7 linked regions of the Homo sapiens genome follow. The protein of the gene in region 1 interacts with the protein of each later gene in a biochemical or structural test. Each region holds a gene or a part of one and is shown in the gene's direction. Other genes may lie near its edges. The genes, in order: CNTNAP4, MAGI1, SNTG2, SHANK1, DLG4, PALS2 and PTPN3.

Region 1 (3,500 bases):
TAGGTATATGTGTATGTAGATATCTAAACTACTAGACTCGTGCTCATTTGTATATACGTATATGTGTATGTAGATATCTGTAAACTACTAGACTCATGTGCTTGCATATTTTTGGTGGCCCTGTTAAGTACTTATCTGTCTAAAGATGAAATATGTTGAATGAACCACGCTCCCTGCCTACTAGTATCCTGTCTGACATTTCAAAAGCAGTGGACTAGCCATAATTTTTTTCTCTTTGTTCTCATCAAGATGAGCTTTTACAATTATATTGAAGTGTCCCTTCCATCAAAGTTTAGAGACGGATCCTTGCAGATGGGTGTGCTCTTTGAGAAGCTGCACTGGCTGTTCTTGGTTTCTTTGCTTGCTACTAAGAGACATGCATTAAGAACAGAGACATTTCTCTATTTTTTAATAGCTCTTATAAATCCAGTTTTTGAACATTAAGACATGGTTGAAGATGGGGTCAACTTACCCCAAAAGAAGGAATGGGTACAGTAGTAAGGCTGATAAGAGTTTGCTTTTATTTTAACTCTTGCAGATTATGTGAGGGAGGCTCTCTAGTTACTGGTATACTGAGCCGTACTCTTGAGAATAATTAATGCTCCCCAATGACTTAATTAGAAGTTAACATCTCACTGTGTTCTTTCTTTTCTCTGATGGAAATAAAGGCCGTATCTGATACCTACCCTAAAAGAAGCACTGAAGGATAGATGAAGGCAAATTGCCTAAGTAGATGATCACTCTTGTGGGTCCTGGGAGACAGCTGGACAGATTCTCACATTGTTAAAACTCAACCTTGTAATTCTTTCTAGAAGCTACTTTCTTTTCCTCCCCCCACCATATTTACTCCTATAGCAGAAAATAACTAGAATGCAATAGTAAAGTACTGATAAAATATAATTCTATGAGGCAATGCATAAATGGCTAGCCCCTATAAAGATCAGCACGTACTTTGACTCACTTTTCTAATAGCAATGGTGATTTATTTTCATCTATTCAGTCCATTTTCTCCACTTCTTATTACATGCATCTCAATAATCTCTGATAAAGGCAGCCTCTAGCTCTGGAGATAACGTGACTCATGGGCCAACATGGGGATCAAACATAACTTTCACATAATACCTGGTGCTTACTCTAGGAAATAAAGATTATTGTCTTGTAAAATTAATTTTGGAATTTATATCATATGTAAGCAATTTCTGTATTGGAGCTAATGAGTATATCAAGATTAAATTGACTTTTGTTAAAGAAAATAGATTAATAGAATTATATAACATCTATCATAAGATAATAAAATATTTAACTCAGGTTGGTAAACTGTGGCCCATGGGCTGAATCTGACCTGCTAGTAGTGACTGTTTTTGTATGACCCATGGGCTAAGAATAGTTCTTCCATTTTTAGCTGAAAAAAATTAAAAGAAGAATTCTTCATGGTAAAAAATAATTATATGAAATTCAAATTTTATTCTTCCACTTATTAGTAAACCTGCATGACAAAAATTTCTACTCAAATATTAGTATTATATTTTGAATTTTATCAATTAAATTTTATTAAGATTGTTTACCCTCTTACTATGTAACTACTTACATAAGATTCTTTACTCTCTGGCACTTTATATAAAAAGTTAATTGACCCCTATTTAAATAATATACAATAAAATGATAAGACATGAAAAGTGTATAAATTATACTTCTATGATAAAATTTAGTCTTAATTATTTAGCACACAAATATATACTTGCAGAGTTGTGGTACTGAACGCAATGCTATTATTGCCAGGAACTGTAACAGAGGATATCTTCAAGTTAATGTTTCCTTGTATGTTTTTTCTTAAAGACTTTATTGTTCAAAAATCTTGATATTTCAGTGGGTATAAATTATTTGTAAAATTCCCACAGTTTTAATCTCAAGTGGTCTTGTTAGGATAAGATATTTGATGAAATATATAAGTAATATAAGTTCAATGAAGTATATAAGTAATATAAGTTCAATTAACTGTACAAGTAATTGCAACTTAGATGTTTTGAACAAAAATTCTGCTGTTATTTTACATTTTCATGAGTATAAAATATTCCACTCTATCTTAATCAGCAACTTACATTTGGAATCAAAGATCATATGAGGAAAATGTTTTTGATAGAAGAGTATTTTTGCTCCTGTGACTTTTAAAGCAGCAGCTTTCTAAAAATTCTGAAATTGGCCAACTTTCTAGAATAAACTGAAAAATAGATTTTCATTTAAGCACTGCCCACTAAGAGCTCATGATATTTAAGCAAGTGATTTTCACTTACCCTTGTCAATAATAAATTTCTGGGTAAATGGTTTGTGTATTTGAAATTGTATTTATTTTAGAATTCCAGGAACTGATCTTTGGCCCCATTTTATTTACGCTATACTTTTTCCTACAGTTTTTTGAAAAATTAAATTAAAAATATGATGTAATATCATTTAAAAACCCATTTTCATTTTTTCAGTTTTTTTTCAAAACAAATGGTCACTTGTTAAAATAGTTTATTTTTTCATTATATTGTTTTTAGTGCTTCAGCTTTAAATGAAGATTTCTAAGTCTCATCAAAAGGCCAATTTCCAAAAAGAAAATAAACCCCCCCACCAAAAAAACTAGGATAGTCTCAAAGAGCTTAACTGAAATATGACTTTCTCTGAGTGTCAAAGGAATTGTGATGAGATTCGTGATCATCCACTGTAAGTAGACAACGATTAGGGATAATGACATTGGCATTACATGGCTTTGAGTTTTTAAAAATAGAATATCAGCTCTGCTCTACAAATACCGATTTTTCTTGTTTAAATACTATGTTTAAAATTTAAAGCTATTCTACTTCAGATTAAACAATATTGAGGCCTTAATATTGTTCACTAATGAATCATATGACCTTTAGGTTGCCAATTAGTCCCAGGTTGTTTAAGAAATCGTTCTGTTATAAAGACACATGCACATGTATGTTCATTGCAGCACTCTTTACAATAGCAAAGACATGGAATCAACCTAAGTGCCCATTAGTGATAGACTGGATAAAGAAAACTGGTACATATACACCGTGGAATACTACGTAGTCACAAAATAGAATGAGATCACATACTTTGTAGTGCCATGGATGGTGCTGGAGACCACTATTCTTGGCAAACTAACAAGGGAACAGAAAACCAAATACTGCATGTTCTCACTTATAAGTGGGAGCTAAATGATGAGAACACATGGACACATAGAGGGAAACAACACACACTGGGGCTTTTTGGAGGATGGAGAGTGGGAGGAGAGAGAGAATAAGGAACAATAACTAATGGGTACTAGGCTTAATACCTGAGTGTTGAAATAATCTATACAACAAACCCCCATGACACAAGTTTACTTATGTAACAAACCTGCACTTGTACCCCTGAACTTAAAAAATAAAAGTTAAACAAACAAAAGAAGTCCTTCACTATCCTTTAAAAAATATTTTCATTTTGTTTTCACTGACTGAAAGTTTACAGAATGA
Region 2 (3,500 bases), on another chromosome or scaffold:
TCTACAAGAAAGTTGTAGAGCTGGCCAGTTCTAGGTCAGCTTTGATTCCTTCTTCCTGCCCATAAGCTTTGAACTTTAATTCTCAAAATACTACATATCCTTTCAGGCTCAGCTCAAATATAACTTTCTTCCCTTGGAAATTCCTCCTTCCTCCAACTGCCTTCAGATTTTAGCATTCCCTCCTTGCCATTCTAGTGACTCATGGTTTACTGCTGTATCAGAATCTGCCATTTTGAGACAGTGAATTGTGTGAGTGTTTGTCCTTTCCCTTGAAAGCTCACGTTGAACACACCTTGGTTGTTCACCTTTGGATGCAGCTCCCACCTTGAAACCTTTAAGGCAGAACCCAGAGTGCAGCAGAGGTGATTGTCTTCTATCAGTGGAATTACTGGAGAAATATGACCTGAAATATTATGAATTCTCTTGGCATTCATATTAGTGAAACAGATACCTGTCAGATAAAATTAATTGGTAACTTCTTTTAAAAAAAAAGAGTATAACCCATTTTAAATGGTATATGATTAATTATAGAATTAAGATGTTAAATTCCAGTGTGTTTGTGACCTCACAATCCTTCTTAACATACTATTCCATGTAGCTAAAAGCAGTCAGCTGGAACGAGTTTTTGAGATGAGATGAAAACTAACTATCTCGCTTCCCTGGCCCAAATAGAAATAGTAAGGCAATGTGATTTTTTTTGTTGTTTCAGGTTTATTTTTTTAAATCTTAAATATTTTGGATTTTTAGCTCTGTGTAAAAGGCGTGTCAAATCTATGAAGAGACATTATGCAAGTGAACTAGTCACAAAAGGAGAAATATTGATTCCCTTTATATGAGATACCTAGGGTAGTCAAATTTATAGAGATAGAAAGCAGAATGATGGTTGGTGGGGGGTGGAGGAAATAGGAAGGGGAATTAGTTTTTAATGAGTACAGAGTTTCAATTTGGGAAAATGACAAAATTCTGGAGATGGATGATGATGATGGTTGCACAAAAATGTGAATGCACTTAATACCACTCAACTGTATGCTTAAAAATGGTTTAAAAATTTGTTATGCTTATTTTTCCAAAATTAAAACAATCTATGAAAAGAGAAGCTTTTGGAAATAAATACAGTCTGATCCAAAACTTGGACACAACACACATTTTGTTTTTTGGCATAGTTGGTTCCACCTACGGTGTTGGCTATTTAGGAGTGCTTTACCTTGCAGTCTGATGGTAACACTAGAACGGTGACTAAATTCAGAAGGAGGCCAGTGTATCCAGTTCTGTGATCAGAGTCGATGTTGACACCTGGAAGCTAAGAAGAGAAGCATGTGTATGTCTCACAGGTGTTGTCATGAACCCCACATAGGGCGGGTAGCCTCAACGTTACCATCACCTTACTGTTTGTCGCCTGATGGAAAAAGCTGGGTGGAAATGTGACTGGAAAGTAATGACAATGTGAACGTGCATCCAAGGTTGTATCTATGAAGCCAAGATGGCGGTCTTCACGGGTGTAGCCCTCACCTACGCTTAGGCCCTTCCCTTTGTGCAATGGGGAAATATTTCACAGCAGGCCGATCTTGCTGCAGACTTGATTCTGAGTGTGGATGTCGACATATAGCATGCTATAAACAACAAACGCTATTTGGGAGTCCCATTTGGTGTTAGGTGGGATCAATGTTCGTAGATACTGAATGGTTAATATTTGTCAAGAGAAGCTGCTTTCAATCCGTATATCCAGGTATTGTGAAACCAGGTGCTGTCTCCTCCCCTCGGTTCACGTTTTGATTTCTAGCAGGAGTTGCTGGAAGGAGGGAGGGGCAGCAGGATGGAGGGGCTGCAGGACACGGTGATGTACGCGTGCATCTCTCTGCTACAGTGCCCAAAACCGAGAACGAGGTGCCCTCGCCAGCCTCCTCTCATCACAGTAGCAACCAGCCGGCCTCGCTGACAGAAGAGAAGCGCACTCCGCAGGGCAGCCAGAACTCGCTGAACACGGTGAGCTCGGGCAGCGGCAGCACCAGCGGCATCGGCAGTGGCGGCGGCGGGGGCAGCGGCGTGGTCAGCACCGTGGTGCAGCCCTACGACGTGGAGATCCGGCGCGGGGAGAACGAGGGCTTCGGCTTCGTCATCGTGTCCTCGGTGAGCAGGCCCGAAGCAGGCACGACCTTTGGTGAGTGCTGAACGTGAAATTACCCAGGGTTTCCCACCATGCCTGGGAGTTTTTGTTCTCTTGCGAGTGAAAGCTGACTCAGACCTCACGTGCAGAAATGCTTTATAGCTTCTTGCTCTGGGTAATTAAAGACTTAATTGGAGATGGAGTTGATTTGGTAGCTTTTTCCCTTTTGAAGGTTGGGAATATTTGTTCAACCCTTTCAACTTCCACACTGAGAATGTGATCACGCATACACAACTTAAAGCATACATCAGATTTGCGTGAAATTTGAATAGCAGCCGGGCGCTGTTGCTCACGCCTGTAATCCCAGCACTTTGGGAGGCCGAGGAGGGTGAATCACTTGAGGTCAGGAGTTTGAGACCAACCTGGCCAACGTGGTGAAACCCTGTCTCTACTAAAAGTACAAAAAGTAGCTGGGCGTGGTAGTGCATGCCTGTAATCCCAGCTACCTGGGAAGCTGAGGCAAGAGAATCGCTTGAACCTGGGAGGTGGAGGTTGCAGTGAGCCGAGATTGTGCCACTGCATTCCAGCCTGGGTGACACAGCGAGACTCTGTCTTAAAAAAAAAAAAAAAAGAAAAGGAAAGGAAAGAAAAGAAATTTGAATAGGAACCCCTGGACAGCATACAGAGTCTACAGTTTTTGCCAAAGCAAGGCTTTCGAAAGGTCTTGAATAGGATAGCACTAATTGCAAGGGCCTCAGAATGGTCTTAAGAATGTCTTAAGAGTTTTTACAAGGAGCATACGGCTGTAAAAATGCTCTAGGAAAAACAGAGGTGTAAGGAGTAAAAATACTACATGAGATGCTAGTCTGCCTCATCTGTGTTCTTTCTCTACTCTATCCCCATAGGAATTTTTTTTAATTTTAAATAATATTTTTACTGTTGCTTGATTTAAAGTCTGGTTAAAATCTGAGTTAAGAGTCATTCGATTTTCCTGTCTCGTCCAGACATTGAGGGTTTCAGCAAAGTATGGAGAAACACAGTTGTCACTTTCTCAGAAGGATTCACTCTCTTCTGGGTACACTAGCAAAGACCAATAGAAACCCAGATGATTGCAGAAACTAGTGATATATGAATCTGCTTCCCATTGCAATGGATTGATTATAGATGTACACTCCAAAAATGATCCACCTTCCTGATTGGGTAAAAAGTCATTTGTTATCTCCCAAGCACATTTGTTACTTACTATGGAATACAATGGGAGAAGGGGAAGGGCTGTGCAGGCTGTGTGGGCTTTTCATGTACCTCAGCTCTATCCCTGAATGACTTATCCACATGGAAACTGGCTAGAATCAGCAAGGTGCTACAACCCTTTAGCATTCTCATCCAGTAGAGCTCA
Region 3 (3,500 bases), on another chromosome or scaffold:
TGAATCCCAGCCTCTTTGGATATCCCTATAATCTCTTATAGCACATATGTCCCAGCTTGCAATTGCCTACATAGTCCCAAATAAACTTTGGGAGAGCCTCTCTCTGTCATTGTATTAGGCTGACACTCCCTAACCCAACATATTGGACTGTTCATTCCACACTGTTTCCTGCACAGAGAGCCAGCAGGTGCCCTTTCCTCTGCAGGTGGAAACACATCAGCCCATGACCGACATGTGAACACAGGTGAGGAGTGCAGCGAGGGATCCATACAGGGTGTCCCCAGCTTAGAACTCAACACAAGTATTTTGTTCAAACAAAATGTCAAAATGTGATTTCAATCAGCTCTAGTTAAAAATTCATAATTCAAGATAGCCTTGCTGGTAATACTTGGTTAGAAAATTAACCAGACCAGAGATATCATGACTCAGCTTTTGGCTGAATTGAAGATGTTCAGTGAAATGCCCACAGGATGCTTGTTTATTCAGTATCTGGATCATGACATAATGGATTGAGTATTGTTTCATAAGCTTTAATTTCATTCCTGGCTTTCAGTACTACTCATTGAGTTTTAGTGTGGAATTTAGTGGTGTGACCGATTTCACTGCTAGCTAGTAATTTCTTTTATTTTCTTTTTTTTTGAGACAGAGTTTCACTCTTGTTGCCCAGGCTGGAGTGCAATGGCACAATCTCGGCTCACTGCAACTTCCGCCTCCCGGGTTCAAGTGATTCTTGTGCCTCAGCCTCCCAAGTAGCTGTGATTACAGGCACCTGCCACCATGCCCAGTTAATTTTTAGTATTTTTTTTTTTTTTTGGTAGGGACAGCATTTCACCATGTTGGCCAGGCTGGTGTCAAACTCCTAACTTCAGGTGATCCATCTACCTCGGCCTCCCAAAGTGCTGGGATTACAGGCGTGATCCACCATACCCAGCCATTGCTAGTACTTTCAAAGATTATGCAGTGTAACTTCAACTTATGGTACCAAAAACTATTGATGTTGTTTTGAATATGTGCATTATTACTGGTAGCTGTTTGGCTTCTTATTTCTGTGCATTGTGCTATTATTGGATACATCTTGGGAACTTGTAAAGCAATTTTCAGTTTCTATGTATAAAACCAAAACCCTGGCCGGGCGCGGTGGCTCACGCCTGTAATCCCAGCACTTTGGGAGGCCGGTGCTGGCAGATCACGAGGTCAGGAAATCGAGACCATCCTGGCTAACACATGAAACCCTGTCTCCACTAAAAATACAAAAAAAAATTAGCCAGGCATGGTGGTGGGCGCCTGTAGTCCCAGCTACTTGGGAGGCCGAGATGGGCGGATCACGAGGTCAGGAGGTTGAGACCATCCTGGCTAACATGGTGAAACACCATCTCTACTAAAAATACCAAAAAAAAAAAAAAAAAAAAAAATTAGCTGGGTGTGGTCACAGGCACCTATAGTCCCAGCTACTCAGGAGGCTGAGGCAGGAGAATGGCGTGAACCCAGGAGGCGGAGCTTGCAGTGAGTGGAGGTTGTGCCACTGCACTCCAGCCTGGGCGACAGAGTGAGATTCCGTCTCAAAAAAAATAAAATTAACCCAAAACCCTGAAGCATGAATGATATGGTCATTATGGCTCTTTTTCTCCAAAAGTCCCTTTAAAGCTCAGTAATTGCTATTTGGAAACACATACATACATTGAATTACAATATGTGCTAAGTTTGCAAGAACCTTGTGTTTCTTCTAGAAAGCTACTTGGTTTTTTTTTTTTCCTCTAACAGGGATAAGTCAAAATGAATAAAAGATTTTGAGTACAGTCTCACGCTTTGGGTATGATTGGCGAATCCAGCTTGAATTAAAGTTTAACACAAGGGCTGGGCAGGCCCTGGGTTCCACTCATGACCAGAGTGAGGGATGCTGGTTACCAAGTGTAATGACGCTTTATGAAACTACCTAAAGACTATGAAGCTTTGGCAGGAGAATACACCTCAACATCTTGAACATTTTGCTCATCACAATTTGAAATGATCAAAATAATTAGTGTTGTAGCTGTCAATGTTAAGAGTCATTCACATGCATAGGAAGGAACTTAATTCAAATTGGAATAAAGGAAAGATGAAGCCTTTGGTTGCAGTCACTAGGAGGTTGGGGGCAGCTCCCAGCATGTTGGTACCCAATGTCCCCCAGTGTTCTTTGTGTATCCCTGCATGGGGTGTTCCTCTGTGTTGAAGTCCTCTTCCGGCAGGCTGGCTCGCTGGCTCTCCACTTGGCATTAGTGGTATTAGAACAAGCTTCAGGTATTCACTTCTCACAGCTGGTCACACCAATGTAGGCATCTTGGCCTCCCTCTCCCTGTCATCTGTACCAAGCTGCCACTGGGCTCTGGCTGGTCCAGCTGGGTCCTGTACCTATTGCAAGAGAGAAGCAGTTTCTAAAAGAAAGGCATGCAGAGAGGACCAGGGAGAGGCCGAGGGGACTTCATGCTGTCAGGGAAGTTTGAAGTCATTTTTGAGATGTCACGTCTTTGAGTTATAAAGAAAAGCAGCTCCGAAAAGCTGAGATGGATGTTATTGGGGAGGGAGGGCTTTACCCGGTGATGTGTGACCTCCAATCCTGCCTGGGGCCCCATTCTCCACCCCCTCATTCTGCCATGGAATGAAAATGACCAAGATCCTGCCTTTCGAGAGCTTAAAGGAGCATGTCTGTGGAACTGACAGGCCTTAGCGTTGCTCTTCTTCTTGAAAATGATTTATCTTTCTTTCTGGTGTCATCTCAGCAGTTTAGAATATGCTAGAATTTTGGTGAGATTTAGAAAATAGGATGTCAATCAATTAGCAGTCACCTCAAAATAAATTTTATTTTCTTCATTTTATTGAATTTTGTTATGCAAACAAAGAAGAAAGACAACATTAGAAGAATGCACTTAGACCTTCTTTTCTACCAATAGAATGGGGGTGGCAGGACGGCAAGATTCGTATTTTACCATCAAAAACAGGAAGATGATTTTTCCCCAGTAACTGAATAACTTCTAAAAACAGTTTCTTTAACTTCTGTGTCAGCTTTGGGGTTCACTGTGGACTTTTCTGTTGATTTGACACAGGGACTTTATGTGGGGCAGTTTGTGGAGAGAAGATGAACCTTTTGTGGGTCATTTTTGCTTTTACAGGACATTTAGTGTCTGTAACATGCGGAGGTAAGGATCCAGGAGTTTGTTTCAGTTTTTTTATTGGGAGGGGGTAGGGGTATAACCGTCTCTCTAGGAAACTCTCCCTGGGGCACCCTTTCCTGCTCTCCCGTAGCCATGGGGACAGGGTGGGTGAACAAGGCCCCTCCTCGCTTCCCGCCGTGCTGTGCACACTGCCTATTCTGCGCCACACAGCAGGCGCTGTTCCTCCCAAGCGTGGCCTTGGCATGAAGCCCACACGCACCCACACAGCAGGCGCTGTTCCTCCCAAGCGTGGCCTTGGCATGAAGCCCACATGCACCCACACAGCAGGCACTGTTCCTCCCAAGGGCGGCC
Region 4 (3,500 bases), on another chromosome or scaffold:
GCTTCAGATACACAGAGGGTTGGGAGCAGGTTTTAAATATCCTTGTCCATCTACAGAGTTCACTTGAATTCTGTTTGAAGGTCTGCTATCCAAATGTGTCTGACCTTCAAATGTGGGTTCAGGGAGTGTATATTTGGGGCAACTTAAATCTATGCTCCCAGGTTGAAAAAAAAAAAAAAAGAAAGAAAAGAAAAAGGAGGCTGGGCACAGTGGCCTGCCTCTGTAGTCCCAGCTACTCAGGAGGCTGAGGTGGGTGGATCACTTGAGCCTGGAAGGTTGAGGCTGCAGTGAGCTGATATGACACCAAGGCACTGCAGCCTGGGGAACAAAGTGAGACCCTGTCTTAAAAAAAAAAAAAAAAAGAGAGAGAGAGAGAGAAAGAAAAGAAAAAGGAAGTGTATATTATTAGAGCAACTTGAATCAATGCTCCTACGCTGTAAAAATAAACAAACAAATGTGGGTTTATTAGGCCTTTAAGAACTGAATGCAATTCCTTGACTATTCTTAAGTATTCTGGTTAGAGAAGAGGATTTTTTTTTTCTTTTCTTTTTTTTTTTTTCCACTGCTTGTAGCAGCAACAGGAAGGATGCTTAATTCAGTCAACAATTGCATTAATTATTGACTCATGACCTATGTGTGCAGAGTGCCCTTCTGGGTGATGGGATCCCCTGCTGGACAGGACAGGCAAAGACTGTGCAACTCCACAGGGCTCATAGTCTAGGGACATAGGAGTGGGGGCGGGGCAGTAAACAAAATAATTGCAACCATCCTACAAAAAAAGCTACCACAATGGGATGGGTGGAGAAGGTCTCTCATGTAACAGGCAAGGTGGGCAGAGTAATGAAAGTGGAGAGGGAGCAGCTGCCCAGGGCAAGAGTGAGCCAGGCAGGGGGAGCAGCCAGTTCAAAGGCCCTGAGGTGGGACAGTGCTGGAGGGGAGGGAACGAAAGGGATGAGGGGAACCTTTTTCTCCCCTTGTTTCTTCTCTCTTTCATCTCCCTCTCTTCATCTCTCTCTCTCTGTGTCCCCTGTCCCTTCCATCTCTCTCCCCTGGATGCTCACCCTCTTTTTGTCTCTCTCTCACTGTCTCCCCATCTTTCACTCTGCTACGACTGGCCATAACCTGAAAGGCAGTATAGAATAGTGGTGAAGAGCTCAGACTTTGGTGCCATATAACCGGGCTCTGCCACTTCCTGTGTGTCCTTAGGCAAGTTATTTAACCTCTCTGTGCTGATAATAATAGTAACCTGCATCAGGGCTGTCGTGGGGATTAAACTGAGATGCAATCATGTAAAGCACTTAGAACAATGCCTGGCACACGTGAGCATCAGTAAGCGGTGACGATTATTATTATTATCACTTAATGTCTCTTTTTCTTTCATCTCTCTTAACTGTCGCCCTCTCCCTGTCCTCTCATCTTTCTCTCCCTTCATTTCTTTCCTCGACGGCCGGCCGTCTTACCCCTTGCTCCCTCCATTTCTTCCCGTCTCTCCTCCGTCTCTCCCCCTACCCTTATGTCTCTCCTCCTCTCTCCCTATATCTTGACCTCTGCCTCTTTCTCACCCCTGCCCTTGCCCCCTAAATCCCTGTCCTCCCCCACTGCCCCCTTGTCACATTCCAGACTCTCCGACGACTCCCAGTCCTCACTCCTCTCCAAGCCTGTCAGCAGCCTGTTTCAGAACTGGCCCAAACCACCTCTGCCGCCACTCCCCACCGGAACAGGGGTCTCCCCTACAGCCGCTGCGGCCCCAGGGGCCACCTCACCCTCAGCCTCCTCCTCCTCCACGTCCACCCGCCACCTCCAGGGCGTGGAGTTCGAGATGCGGCCCCCTCTGCTCCGCCGGGCCCCCAGCCCCTCGCTGCTGCCCGCCTCGGAGCACAAGGTCAGCCCTGCGCCCAGGCCCTCGTCCCTGCCCATCCTGCCTTCCGGACCCCTCTACCCAGGCCTCTTTGACATCCGTGGCTCCCCAACTGGAGGGGCAGGAGGCTCGGCTGACCCCTTCGCCCCAGTCTTTGTGCCGCCACACCCGGGGATATCCGGGGGGCTCGGGGGAGCCTTGTCAGGGGCCTCGCGCTCCCTCTCACCGACCCGCCTGCTCTCGCTGCCCCCGGACAAGCCGTTTGGCGCTAAACCTCTGGGGTTCTGGACCAAGTTCGACGTGGCTGATTGGCTGGAGTGGCTGGGTTTGGCGGAGCACCGAGCCCAGTTCCTGGACCACGAGATCGATGGCTCCCACCTGCCCGCCTTGACCAAGGAGGACTACGTCGATCTAGGTGTGACCAGGGTGGGCCACCGCATGAACATCGACCGGGCTCTCAAATTCTTCCTGGAGAGGTGATGGCTGGCCTGGACGGACCAGCCCCGTCCACAGAACTCTTGAGCCTGCTGGCCTCTTGACCTCTGACCCCTGACTGTCATTCTCTCCCCGGGCCAGGGACTCTGTTCAAACTGCGCCCTGCCCTCATCTCCCAAGGCCAGAGGTCACCAGGTGGCCCAATCCAGGCCGGACATTTGCACCTCACTGAAGGGGGGCAGCTGACACAAGAGTGTGTGTGTGTGTGTGAAGCGGGGAGCGGAGGGGGGATAGGAGAAATTACAGAGGGGAATTGAGAAGGAGGGAAGGGCCTATTCTGGGGGGAGGGGATAGACAGAGCCATAGAGGGTCAGCCCTGAGCCCGATTGGATGGGGACTGTCCCCCAGGCCGCAGGGGAAGGGGGTGCCCTCGGATTCCACCACCTGCCACCCCTCTAACAACCCTTCCCACTCTCTCCAGGCCCCTCAGCTCTCCCCCCTTCCCCTCTCCCCAGCACACACAGCTGCCCCCCTCAGCCTCTTGCACGCTCCGTTGCACGCCTGCTCACCTCTCTCCCCTCCCGTCCCCGGGCTGCAATTTTGCACAAATTTGCCCTCTCGCTGTCTTGCACATTCTGCCTTTGCTTCTGGCTGGCGAGGCCCGCTCAAATACACTCTGCTCTCCTCGCACACGCTGCATTTCCTTTCTCACGCTCCATGCCTCCTTCTCTGCTTCTTGCTGCTTACACACTTTTCCCCTACCAGGGCCCTCCTTTACACACTCCATTTCACATCTCCTCCTCCCCGCTCGCTCTGGACCCTTGTTGCAGACACACTTGGGACACATTTTCCCTCCCCCTCACAGACTCCATGCACATCATTCATTCTCTGGAGTGCCCTGCTCTTTGCTCAGCCCTTGCACACTTGCTATCTTATGCACCCCTCCTGACACACTCTTACCTCCATTTTCTTACGTTGAAGCACTTTCCCTTCTTATTCTTAAAAACCCCAGATTCTTCCACTCCCCAACTCTCCCCTCTCACCATGACACTCCTAGCCCCCCACCCCCCGCCTTCCCTCTTGCCCCTTTTGCACCGTCACTTTTGGTCACGCCTTTTGCACACTTGCCTCCCAGAAACTGTTTCTCTCACACATGCTCATTCTCTTCTTCTTTGCCAGGCTCCCACTCCCTTGCCCCTTTCTGTTT
Region 5 (3,470 bases), on another chromosome or scaffold:
TCCCCCAACCCTGCGCTCGGCCTAAGCCAGGCTCTCTCTGCAGTGCACTATGCTCGCCCCATCATCATCCTTGGGCCCACCAAGGACCGCGCCAACGATGATCTTCTCTCCGAGTTCCCCGACAAGTTTGGATCCTGTGTTCCCCGTGAGTGCTGGGGCCTTGGATGGAGGAGAAGGTGGAAGTGGGGGTGGGGCAGGGGAGGCCCATCCCTGGGGCCATAGGCAGAGCCTCCTGGGGGATCGGTGTGTAGGGAGATACAGGGTTTCTCCGAGAAGGGGTGCTTCTCAGCCACCCTCTCATTCCATAGTACCCATGCCCAGGCCAGAGACTTGGAGGCCCTGGAGGGTGCTAGGGGAAGCGGTTCTGGCCCTCTGCAGTCTTGGTCTCCCTGGCAGCTCCCTTTCACCAAAGGACCAGCTGGGCACTATGGGGATTTGATTGAAGTAGGCAGGATTTAAGCTAGAGGGATGGTGGTTAGATCTTTGGGGGGTGGGGTGACTTCCTGGCAGATACGACACGGCCCAAGCGGGAGTATGAGATAGATGGCCGGGATTACCACTTTGTGTCGTCCCGGGAGAAAATGGAGAAGGACATTCAGGCGCACAAGTTCATTGAGGCCGGCCAGTACAACAGCCACCTCTATGGGACCAGCGTCCAGTCCGTGCGAGAGGTGGCAGAGCAGGTAGGACCTGGCGGGCACCCGGTCCTCTTCCTTCTCCCCTCTCCCCACCCCACTGCCTCCCTCCAGCTTTCTCTAACTCTCTCTCTCTCTGTCTCTTTCCCTGCTGGGTCTCCACTCCGCTCCTCCACCTCCTTCTCCTCTTGGGCAACTCTGTCTGACTGCCTGCTCTCTGCCCCTGCTCTCTCTCCCACCTCCCTCACTTCCTGACCCCAAATTCCCCACCACCATCTGGCCTCTTTCTCTCCCCACTCCCTTCTCCTTGCCCCATTTCTCCTCTCTTCCCATGGCCTTGTCTTTGGTGGCTTGGCCTTCCCCACTGGGTCCCTCCCTTTTTCCTGACTCCCCGCTGGCCCTCTCCCCTGCCTCACCCTTTTCTGGGGCCCGGCTCCCCTCTCCCACTCCTCTGCTAACTCCTTTCCTTTCCCCGCTGCTCCTCACCCTGCCCTCCCTCCCTCCCTCCACGGTTCCTTTCTCCATCTGCCTCACTCCCTCCCATCTGTCTCCTTGTTCCTTCCATCTGTCTGTCCTCTGTCCGTCCTCCCCTCCCTCCTCCCTCTATCCTACTTCCTTTCTCCTTTTTCTTGGCTTTCCTTCCCGCCTGTGTCACCTCTGCCTTGCACACCCCGCCCCACTCGCTGCTGCCCCGGCTCTGCCACCATCTCTTGGGTCCCTGCCTGCCTGGTGCTCCTCCCTTCCTCCATTCTGTCCTGTCCCTGCCCTCTCCCGTGCTCTCCATCTTCCCTTTCCTTTCCCTCTGTCTTTTACTCTGTCCATACCCGCTTCCTGCCTGACTCTCTGCCCCCGTGTTTCTTGACATCCATGTCACTCCCCTTCGGCCAACTTCCCATTCCCCACCTCTCCCCGTCCGTGTCCCTCCGGCACTGCTCTCTGTCCTTTCTCGCCACCCGCTGGCCCCCCTCCGCCCACCCTGCCTGCCCCCAGGGGAAGCACTGCATCCTCGATGTCTCGGCCAATGCCGTGCGGCGGCTGCAGGCGGCCCACCTGCACCCCATCGCCATCTTCATCCGCCCCCGCTCCCTGGAGAATGTGCTGTGAGTATGGTCCTGGGGGCCTCCCCTTTGCTCCCCCAACACCTGTGGCCCTGGGCCTCACAAGGCGTCTGCGTTCAACTCTCCCTTCAGAACCCTGGACAGCGGTTTCAGCAGCCCCTGAGGGGGATCCCTGGAACCCAGAGGATGTGGGGGAATCGGGTCTTTCCCCTCCTCTCCTGCCTTGGCTAGACAGGACTACATTTCCCAGCAGCCCCTGGGGCATACCAGCTGGGGCGAGTCAGGGCCTCTAGGGCTGTTGGGAATTGGAGTCCGAATCCCATCTCTGGGGCTGAAGGCTGGAAGGATGAAGCTCCGTAGATGTCCCTGGAGTAGCCACACCTGGCTGGGGCGGTTGCGGGTGGCAGGGGGGTGGGGGGTGGTTCTCATCTGTGGCCCCAGAGGATATTGGGAATTGTATTTTTTTTTTTGCTATGTGCTCCAAATAGAAGAATACTTAACATTCCTGGATAGAGGAGATAAAAGGCAGGGTCAGGTGGGTCCAGTCTCAGGCCTGCTCTCCCTCCCTCTTCACAGAGAGATTAACAAGCGGATCACAGAGGAGCAAGCCCGCAAAGCCTTCGACAGAGCCACCAAGCTGGAGCAGGAGTTCACAGAGTGCTTCTCAGGTGAGGCCACAGCAAGGCTGTTGCCAGCATGTAGGGTGCCCTTGCTCGGATTAGAAAGAGCTCCCCCGCCACCCCCAGTGGATGGCTTAGAAAGAGGTGCCCCTGTGGGCGCGGCATGGTGGCTCACGCCTGTAATCCCAGCACTGGCGGGCACCTGTAATCCCAGCTACTCGGTAGGCCGAGGCAGGAGAATCGCTTGAACCTGGGAGGCAGAGGTTGCAGTGAGCCGAGATCGCACCACTGCACTCCAGCCTGGCGCTAAGAGCAAAACTCAATCTCAAAAAAAAAAAAAAAAAAAAAAAAGAGGTGCCCCTGTGGGCGGGTGCAGCCCCAGGACTTATGGCTTGGAGAGTTGGAAAGAGGTGCCCCTTCCTCTGGGCTGGTGCAACCCCCTTGGCCAGGTGTCCTCTGGCCCTTCCTTGGCCTCACTCCCTGCTCCACCCCACTCCCAGCCATCGTGGAGGGTGACAGCTTTGAGGAGATCTACCACAAGGTGAAGCGTGTCATCGAGGACCTCTCAGGCCCCTACATCTGGGTTCCAGCCCGAGAGAGACTCTGATTCCTGCCCTGGCTTGGCCTGGACTCGCCCTGCCTCCATCACCTGGGCCCTTGGTCTGGACTGAATTGCCCAAGCCCTTGGCTCCCCCCGGCCTCCCTCCCACCCCTTCTTATTTATTTCCTTTCTAACTGGATCCAGCCTGTTGGAGGGGGGACACTCCTCTGCATGTATCCCCGCACCCCAGAACTGGGCTCCTGAACGCCAGGAACCTGGGGTCTGGGGGGGAGCTGGGCTCCTTGTTCCGAGCCCTTGCTCCTTAGGATCCCCGCCCCCACCTGCCCCCAATGCACACACAGACCCACCGGGGGCCACCTGCCCTCCCCCATCCTCTCCCACACACATTCCAGAAGTCAGGGCCCCCTCGAGGAGCACCCGCTGCAGGGATGCAGGGCCACAGGCCTCCGCTCTCTCCTAAGGCAGGGTCTGGGGTCACCCCTGCCCTCATCGTAATTCCCCATGTTCCTTGATTTCTCATTTATTTTTTCCACTTTTTTTCTTCTCAAAGGTGGTTTTTTGGGGGGAGAAGCAGGGGACTCCGCAGCGGGCCCCT
Region 6 (3,500 bases), on another chromosome or scaffold:
AGGCTTATTAGAAATAGTCAAAACACTGTCATCTTTTTATTCGGATTACTTTCTTAGTTTAGTTTGGTGTAGTTAATAATTCCATCAGTTATTCTCCAACTACTTAGCTAATAGAAACAGGATACTTCTTATATCCGATCCAGCAAAGCCCAGAGTAAGGCTAAGCTTGAAATAACACGCTCAAAAATTACTTTTCTTCTTCAAAGCTGTTGTTAACAAAGTTGTCAGAGAGTACACATTTGCAACAGTTTAAAAAATGGTAATAACCGTTCCTAGCACAGACCAACTTGCAAAGGGTTGTATGTCTCTGAAAGTATTCAAAGCTGTAAAATATCAGACAAAAGGATCTCCTACTTCTAAATTTTGACTTGAGCTATTCAATCTCATTTTCCCAGAAATAATATGTCAGGTCAGAGGAGAGGAGGTTAATAGACCATAATAATAATGAGGCGTCTAGCTCTACCACTGAAGTATAAAATAGAACAGTTAACATTTGGGAATATCAATAAACAGGAAGCTAAAAGCGTTGGTTTTGAGGTAAGATAAAAGATAGATAATTTGTGGGTAAAACTGCACTTTACAAAATTGGTATCACAACTAAGAACAGGTGAACTTTGCTTGCTCACGTTTTGGGGCAGTTAGGAAGTGTTAATGTGGAAAGAAAAGATGTAATAGATTCCTAAGGAGAAGGAGAGTGCTGGTCAGTTGAAAAGATACTCACTCACAACATGCCTCAAACACTTACCATAATTAAGAACTTCATTGAAGGCTCTGCTGCTAGGTAAATATACTTTGAGTTTCAAAGTGATTTTAAGAAGCATATTTTTGGATACAAATTTTATTTGGGGGACTACCTCTTAAAATATTCCCCTAAGGTATCAAGAAACTTTTCTATTAAAGGGCCACATGGTAAAGTTTTAGGCTTCGCAGTCCATACAGTCTGTCACAATTACTACCACCATTTTAATGGGAAAGAAACCATGTATGATACATAAACAAATGAGTATGGCTGTGGTCCAATAAAACTTTATTTACAAAAATAAGAAGCAGATCAGATCTGGTCATAGCCTACAGTTTGCTGCACCCAGTGGAAAAACGTTAAGCCACCCTATGTATTTTAGTCTATTTTTTATGCCCTAAAATTTCTTTGTACAAAAATCTCAACACTATTTTATTTAGTTACTTCACGGAAACCAAGGGAAGATGAAAAAGATGGCCAGGCATATAAGTTTGTGTCACGATCTGAGATGGAAGCAGATATTAAAGCTGGAAAGTATTTGGAACATGGGGAATATGAAGGAAATCTCTATGGAACCAAAATTGATTCTATTCTTGAGGTTGTCCAAACTGGACGGACTTGCATTCTGGATGTCAACCCACAAGTAAGCTGCTTGGATTCCAAAGCTGTTTTATATTTTATTTTCTGTGGAGTTTTTTTCATGTGTGTCGGGGTTGTTGGGTTGGGGTTGTTTGTTTTGTCAGGGTGGAAAGGTGACTCCCTCCATTACCTTTGGGTGATAGAGAATGTTATTATGTATACATAGCTAGTTAAATAAATCTCTGAACAATTAGCCAACAGAGGCTTGGGTGGCAATAGAAACTGTGTGATTAGATCTACAATAGAAGTTTAGTATGTATTTATTTACCTGTTCAAGTAATGCATAAGTGCTTGTGTTAAGAAATGTTAAGTTTAAAACTCAAGTCTGCAATATAAAGAATAAAAAATTAAAGTCACTCCCCCTCCTACCTGACACACATGCACACCTCTACACTATTCATTTTGTCACTCTATATTTCTGTCACCTACCCCTTCCCACTCCGCTACACTCAGCCCAACCTCACGTCCCTACTCAGAGATAAAAATTGTTAATAGTTTCTTATGTCTCTTTCTAGTCATTTCACTATGCCTTAAATACAAATATATATAAGGTAATGGGTTTTCTGTTTTTGTTGTTTCTTTTTACATAAATGGAAAAATTCTATATAGATTCTTCAGGGGTTTTATTAAATAGAACTATTCCTTGGAGATCTTTTTGTGGTAGTTACTGTAGAGCTTTTTTTCTTTGTAATTGCTATATAGTATGAATATATATTCATTTAACCACTCTCCAATTAATCAACATTGAGGTTATTTCTACTTTTTGAGTATTAACAGAATTCTACAATTAACATAAAAAAGAGTTTACATCACTCTTGATGATTTTTGGATCATTGTTTTATACTTTGTTCAAGAGGAACAGACTGAGTTCAAAACAAAATAAATGGATCACTGTTTTAAGAAAGTACTATATGGAATGAGAAGGACAGAACAGGGATAAGTATTAAGTTATGTCCTTTAATTCATAGAACAAGTGCAAACAGCCTTTGATATATACTAAAGGGTAGCAGAATTCTAGTTCTAATATTGTATAAATTGGCTTATAATTATTCTTTTACACAGGCACTGAAAGTATTGAGGACATCAGAGTTTATGCCCTATGTGGTATTTATTGCGGCTCCGGAGCTAGAGACGTTACGTGCCATGCACAAGGCTGTGGTGGATGCAGGAATCACTACCAAGCTTCTGACCGTGAGCTAACCATACGATTTTCCTTCTAAAATCTTTCCTTTTCTTTTGAGCATGTTTAACTGTTATCTAATTTATTTTTATTTATTTATTTTTGAGGCAGAGTTTTGCTTTGTCACCCAGGCTGGAGTGCATTGATGCGATCTCAGCTCGTTGCAACCTCCCCGTCCCGGGTTCAAGCGATTCTCCTGCCTCAGCCTCCCAAGTAGCTGGGATTACAGGCATGCGCTACCAGGCCTGGCTAATTTTTGTATTTTTAGTAGAGACGGGGTTTCACCATGTTGGCCAGACTGGTCTTGAACTCCTGACCTCAGGCAATCTGCCCACCTCGGCCTCCCAAAGTGCTAGAACTACAGGCGTGAGCCACCGTGCCTGGCCAACTCTTAGCTAATTATGCTTATGAAATAAACATGCTATATAAGGTGCTACAGAATGAAAATTAATTAGATGTAGTTAGGATCTGGAACAGTATTCTTTTACTTGAAAATCATTGTACACTTTATTTTAAATCAAAAGTTTAGTTCCCCTTTGTAAAATGAAATGGACCAATATTAAAATATGCGTATTAATTGAACGCCTTCATTTTACTAGTGGGGTAACTGGGCTCCGAGATCATTAACAGGCATGTTTATTATATGGTTTATCATTGGTAAAGTGGGGTGTTCTGATGTTTAGTTTCTATTACATGTTTTTTCCTTTTTTTCCTGTCTACTTTTTTACTTAATGGAAATTCAAAAATATATACAAAAGAGGGAATAAATGAGTCCCTATGCCGATCGCCTAGCTTCAATAATCGTGGCAATTTCTTGTTTTAATTAGACCCCTCCCCACTTCCTCCTCACCTTGAATTATTTTGAAGCAAATCTTTGATATCATGTCATCTGTAAATACTTCAGTATTTATATCTAAGAGATAAAGACATTTAAAACATACC
Region 7 (3,500 bases), on another chromosome or scaffold:
ATCAGACTGTTCCAGTTACTTTCCTAATACATTGATAATCATTAGGGAACTTGTAAACTGAATAAGTAGCTAATTTCTGTTAGTATCAGTGATACTATTTGTGGTGCTAAATGCTATCTCTCAGCTTCTGATGAACCAAGAGTGAATATATTAAGTTTTTAGCTCTTATAATACTGTTTAGTATTTGTATACATTCAGTAGATCTACTGTTGAGCAAGCCATGAAAATAACTTACTGGATTATATCATTGACTTAGGTTGGGCCTGATCCTCAGGCCAGATGAGAGAAGGAATGGGGAGGCAACTGAAACCATGCCCTCTGTTGCTGAGCTGCCTGGGTTCAAATCCTGCCTCTGTCACTTGAGCTTTAATTTGTTGCTTCTATTTCTTCATCTGCAAAGCTTTGTCATCTGCATGCATCCAATGCCAGCAGGGCTGGGTTCTGGTCTTGTATTGTGGCACAAGAAAATACCCCTATTTTGGTGACTGAAAGCAACACCCATTCTGTTATATCTCATGACTTTGTGAGTCAGGAATCCTAGAAGGGCTTGGCCAGAGGCCTCTTCTGCTCTGTGTGGTGTAGATAGGGATTTCTCAGTGAATGTGGCCAGAGGATCCAAGATAACTTCTCTTGCATACCTGGTGTCTTGATGGAATGGTTGGAAGGCTGGACTCACCTGGACTCCTTAGCATCCCCATCTGGATACTCCAGGAGGGTGGTTGAATTTCTTACATGGACACTCAGGGTTCCAGGAGCGAAAGGCAGAACCGTTCAGCCTTCTTAAGGGTGAGACCTGGCACTGGCACAGCGACTCTGTTGCTGAAAGCAGTCACAAGCCAACCCAGATGCAAGACTCAAAGAACTTGCAGTCATCTTTAATCTGCCACAGGGGATCATTTGGGTTGGGAGGATGGCTTGGGAGGACAAGTCAGCAGTTCTTTTACTACCTGTGCCAGCTTCAGCATACTGGTGAATTTCAAGTCTCATTACCTCCATTTTACAGATGAGGACACTGAGGCTTAGAAGGGTCACATGACTTGCCCAGCCCCTAGAGATACAGATACACATCTGCTTATTGGGCCTTCTGAAAGGTTCCACATAAAAAGAAATTTGTTGGGTTATTTTCCAAGCTTATGGGACAATGGAACACTTTTTTTTCAGAGAGTCCCTATTAATAACCCATGACACATTAAACCTTGGAGTTGGGCAGTTTGCTCCCCTTGTTTTGATCCTGTGCTCTTCATCACTGGCAGTGTGGTTTCTGATGTAGGCCTGCCTCAGAGGAAAGAGTCTCCCAGTGATGCTGTTGTGAGCATTTTGATCAGGGTGACAACAGCATTTCTTAATGTGAATTAGTACATGATGTGCTACAGGGCGATTCATATTGTTTATGTTCTTTTGTTTGTTCTTTGTTCTGTTTTGTTTTTGTTGGTTGGTTGATGTCATGTCACAAGGAAATGTGTAGAATGTTTTCATAAGACATTAAATCCTAGTTTAAAATTTAGAGATGCCAGAACCAAAGTTGTCACCCTTTAACAGGGTGACAGGCTTCATGCTCTATTCTCTCAAATAATTCATTCTCTGAGGGGTCTAGATAGCTAAGATTTAAATTCTCTAGGTATAAATAAAATTCAAAAGTAACCTTCAGGGTAGCACATTTCAAAGAACGTAGCCTGAAACTCTGTATAATTTTTTGTTTTTGGAGACAGAGTCTTACTGTGTTCCCCAGACTGGAGTGCAGTGGTGCGATCTTGGCTCGCTGCAACCTCTGTCTCGGGGATTCAGGGGGTTCTCATGCCTCAGCCTCCCAAGTAGCTGGAATTATAGGCATGCGCCACTATACCTGGCTAATTTTTTGTATTTTTAGTAGAGGTAGGGTTTTGCCATGTTGGCCAGGCTGGTCTTGAACTCCTGACCTCAAGTGATCCACCCGCCTCAGCCTCCCAAAATGCTGGGATTGCAGGCATGAGCCACTGTGCCCAGTTTGAAACTACTTTCTAAGCGCATTTTCAGATTCTCTCTCAAAGATTTACCAGTGATTTATAGTGACAGCTCCTGCCAGCTAGGATGATGAAGAGCACCTGAAAAAATGGTTAATATTTTTACTTAGGCCAGTGTGAATAAAATAAGAATTCCTTGAAATCACTGGAGCTGTATTTCTGTGTGATCCTGGAATTCCTTCTAATCTGGTTAGGTTTGGTTATATTCTGGAAACAGCTTTGTTGCTTGAGTAGTGAGGACAAGAAAGGATTTTCACCCGAAGAGAAGAAATCACATAAGGAAATTCCAGGACAGACAGGAATCGCTTTTGAGCTGTCTCCCTCTACTCCCCATAACCTTGGCATTAACCTGCCGTCCTTCAGACAAGAAGCATGTGTAGACTGTTTCACACATGCAGTAATTTCTTTCCTGTTGAACGTCAGTGTAGAAAGTGAACCTGCATCTGGTTTTTCAGGTCGGTAAATAACCAATATTGCAAAAAGGTGATTGGCGGGATGGTGTGGAACCCAGCCATGCGGAGATCCTTATCAGTGGAGCACTTAGAAACCAAGAGTCTGCCTTCTCGTTCCCCTCCCATTACTCCCAACTGGTATGTCCTCCTTTTTTTTTTTTTTGTACTACCCAACAGTAGACACTTTATCTCTTTTAAAAATAAAAACTCAACTTATAAACTCCTAAAGATAGATGACCTACAATTTGCATTTTAGGCTCTTGGCAGAAGTAACTGTTTTCATGAAGTACACAAGTCTAGCTAAATGTTTTCCATCGTGTATAATGCTGAGATGCTCTTTTTAAAAAAACTTATTCAATCTAAATAGTTTGGGAAACTCGAGCCTGCTGAAAGGCCTCCTTTGGAATCACAGCACACATTAGCATATTAAACACTCTGAGACGTCCAATAATAAAAAAGTACGGTTAGCTTTACTTAATTCATGTTTTCCATTAATATCCCACAAAATAAACTTTAGGGAAAACTAACGCAGGTACGTGATGTAAATGATGTAAGGATGTATGACCTTCAGCAGCAGAAGCAAATGCACATCAGTAAGTAGCAGGCCAACTTAAGAGGATGGACTCAGCTTAAAAAGAAATAGGTGGTCGTTTGGTAAAGTGAGAAGGGCACTGGGTTTGTAGCAGAAAGACCTAAACTCAGGTTTTGGCCCTTCTGTTAATTAACAAGTTTCTTTACCTCTGTAGCCTCAGTTTCCCCATATCTAAAAAGATGATAAAAACTACCGCAAATGAAATAATAATGTACAAGTACGTAGTAAGCTTTTAAAAGAGTCAGGTGGAATTATCATTATCTTATTATAATGGTCCTCAAAGACATCACACCATTTTTGTGAATACCTCCAAAAAGGCTAGGGGCCAGAGGGGAAACCTAGCAGGGAATCATTGCCCCCAGCTCCACACTGGAGTAAGAGTGCGTGGCTGTAAATACCTGATCCAGGATCTGCTAAGCCTAAGAGAAACTGGGAGACAGGCAGACAGAGGAGATG

The links.
Region 2: the proteins of CNTNAP4 (region 1) and MAGI1 interact in a test that uses a peptide from one of them, tested with the Homo sapiens proteins (one large-scale study listed by IntAct).
Region 3: the proteins of CNTNAP4 (region 1) and SNTG2 interact in a test that uses a peptide from one of them, tested with the Homo sapiens proteins (one large-scale study listed by IntAct).
Region 4: the proteins of CNTNAP4 (region 1) and SHANK1 interact in a test that uses a peptide from one of them, tested with the Homo sapiens proteins (one large-scale study listed by IntAct).
Region 5: the proteins of CNTNAP4 (region 1) and DLG4 interact in a test that uses a peptide from one of them, tested with the Homo sapiens proteins (one large-scale study listed by IntAct).
Region 6: the proteins of CNTNAP4 (region 1) and PALS2 interact in a test that uses a peptide from one of them, tested with the Homo sapiens proteins (one large-scale study listed by IntAct).
Region 7: the proteins of CNTNAP4 (region 1) and PTPN3 interact in a test that uses a peptide from one of them, tested with the Homo sapiens proteins (one large-scale study listed by IntAct).

What each region holds. Positions count from the first base shown.
Region 1 is NC_000016.10:76,280,401-76,283,900, forward strand, and holds part of CNTNAP4 (contactin-associated protein-like 4 isoform 1 precursor), read left to right. Parts: intron 1-3,500. UniProt on the Homo sapiens protein: Presynaptic protein involved in both dopaminergic synaptic transmission and GABAergic system, thereby participating in the structural maturation of inhibitory interneuron synapses.
Region 2 is NC_000003.12:65,377,919-65,381,418, reverse strand, and holds part of MAGI1 (membrane-associated guanylate kinase, WW and PDZ domain-containing protein 1), read left to right. Parts: intron 1-292; exon of another isoform or gene 293-370; intron 371-1,864; coding exon 1,865-2,158; intron 2,159-3,500. UniProt on the Homo sapiens protein: Plays a role in coupling actin fibers to cell junctions in endothelial cells, via its interaction with AMOTL2 and CDH5. May regulate acid-induced ASIC3 currents by modulating its expression at the cell surface.
Region 3 is NC_000002.12:1,363,349-1,366,848, forward strand, and holds part of SNTG2 (gamma-2-syntrophin), read left to right. Parts: intron 1-3,500. UniProt on the Homo sapiens protein: Adapter protein that binds to and probably organizes the subcellular localization of a variety of proteins. May link various receptors to the actin cytoskeleton and the dystrophin glycoprotein complex.
Region 4 is NC_000019.10:50,660,803-50,664,302, reverse strand, and holds part of SHANK1 (SH3 and multiple ankyrin repeat domains protein 1), read left to right. Parts: intron 1-1,620; coding exon 1,621-2,338; 3' UTR 2,339-3,500. UniProt on the Homo sapiens protein: Seems to be an adapter protein in the postsynaptic density (PSD) of excitatory synapses that interconnects receptors of the postsynaptic membrane including NMDA-type and metabotropic glutamate receptors via complexes with GKAP/PSD-95 and Homer, respectively, and the actin-based cytoskeleton.
Region 5 is NC_000017.11:7,190,158-7,193,627, reverse strand, and holds part of DLG4 (disks large homolog 4), read left to right. Parts: intron 1-43; coding exon 44-145; intron 146-510; coding exon 511-683; intron 684-1,625; coding exon 1,626-1,735; intron 1,736-2,269; coding exon 2,270-2,361; intron 2,362-2,813; coding exon 2,814-2,920; 3' UTR 2,921-3,470. UniProt on the Homo sapiens protein: Postsynaptic scaffolding protein that plays a critical role in synaptogenesis and synaptic plasticity by providing a platform for the postsynaptic clustering of crucial synaptic proteins.
Region 6 is NC_000007.14:24,677,952-24,681,451, forward strand, and holds part of PALS2 (protein PALS2), read left to right. Parts: intron 1-1,179; coding exon 1,180-1,382; intron 1,383-2,440; coding exon 2,441-2,569; intron 2,570-3,500.
Region 7 is NC_000009.12:109,421,808-109,425,307, reverse strand, and holds part of PTPN3 (tyrosine-protein phosphatase non-receptor type 3), read left to right. Parts: intron 1-2,455; coding exon 2,456-2,590; intron 2,591-3,500.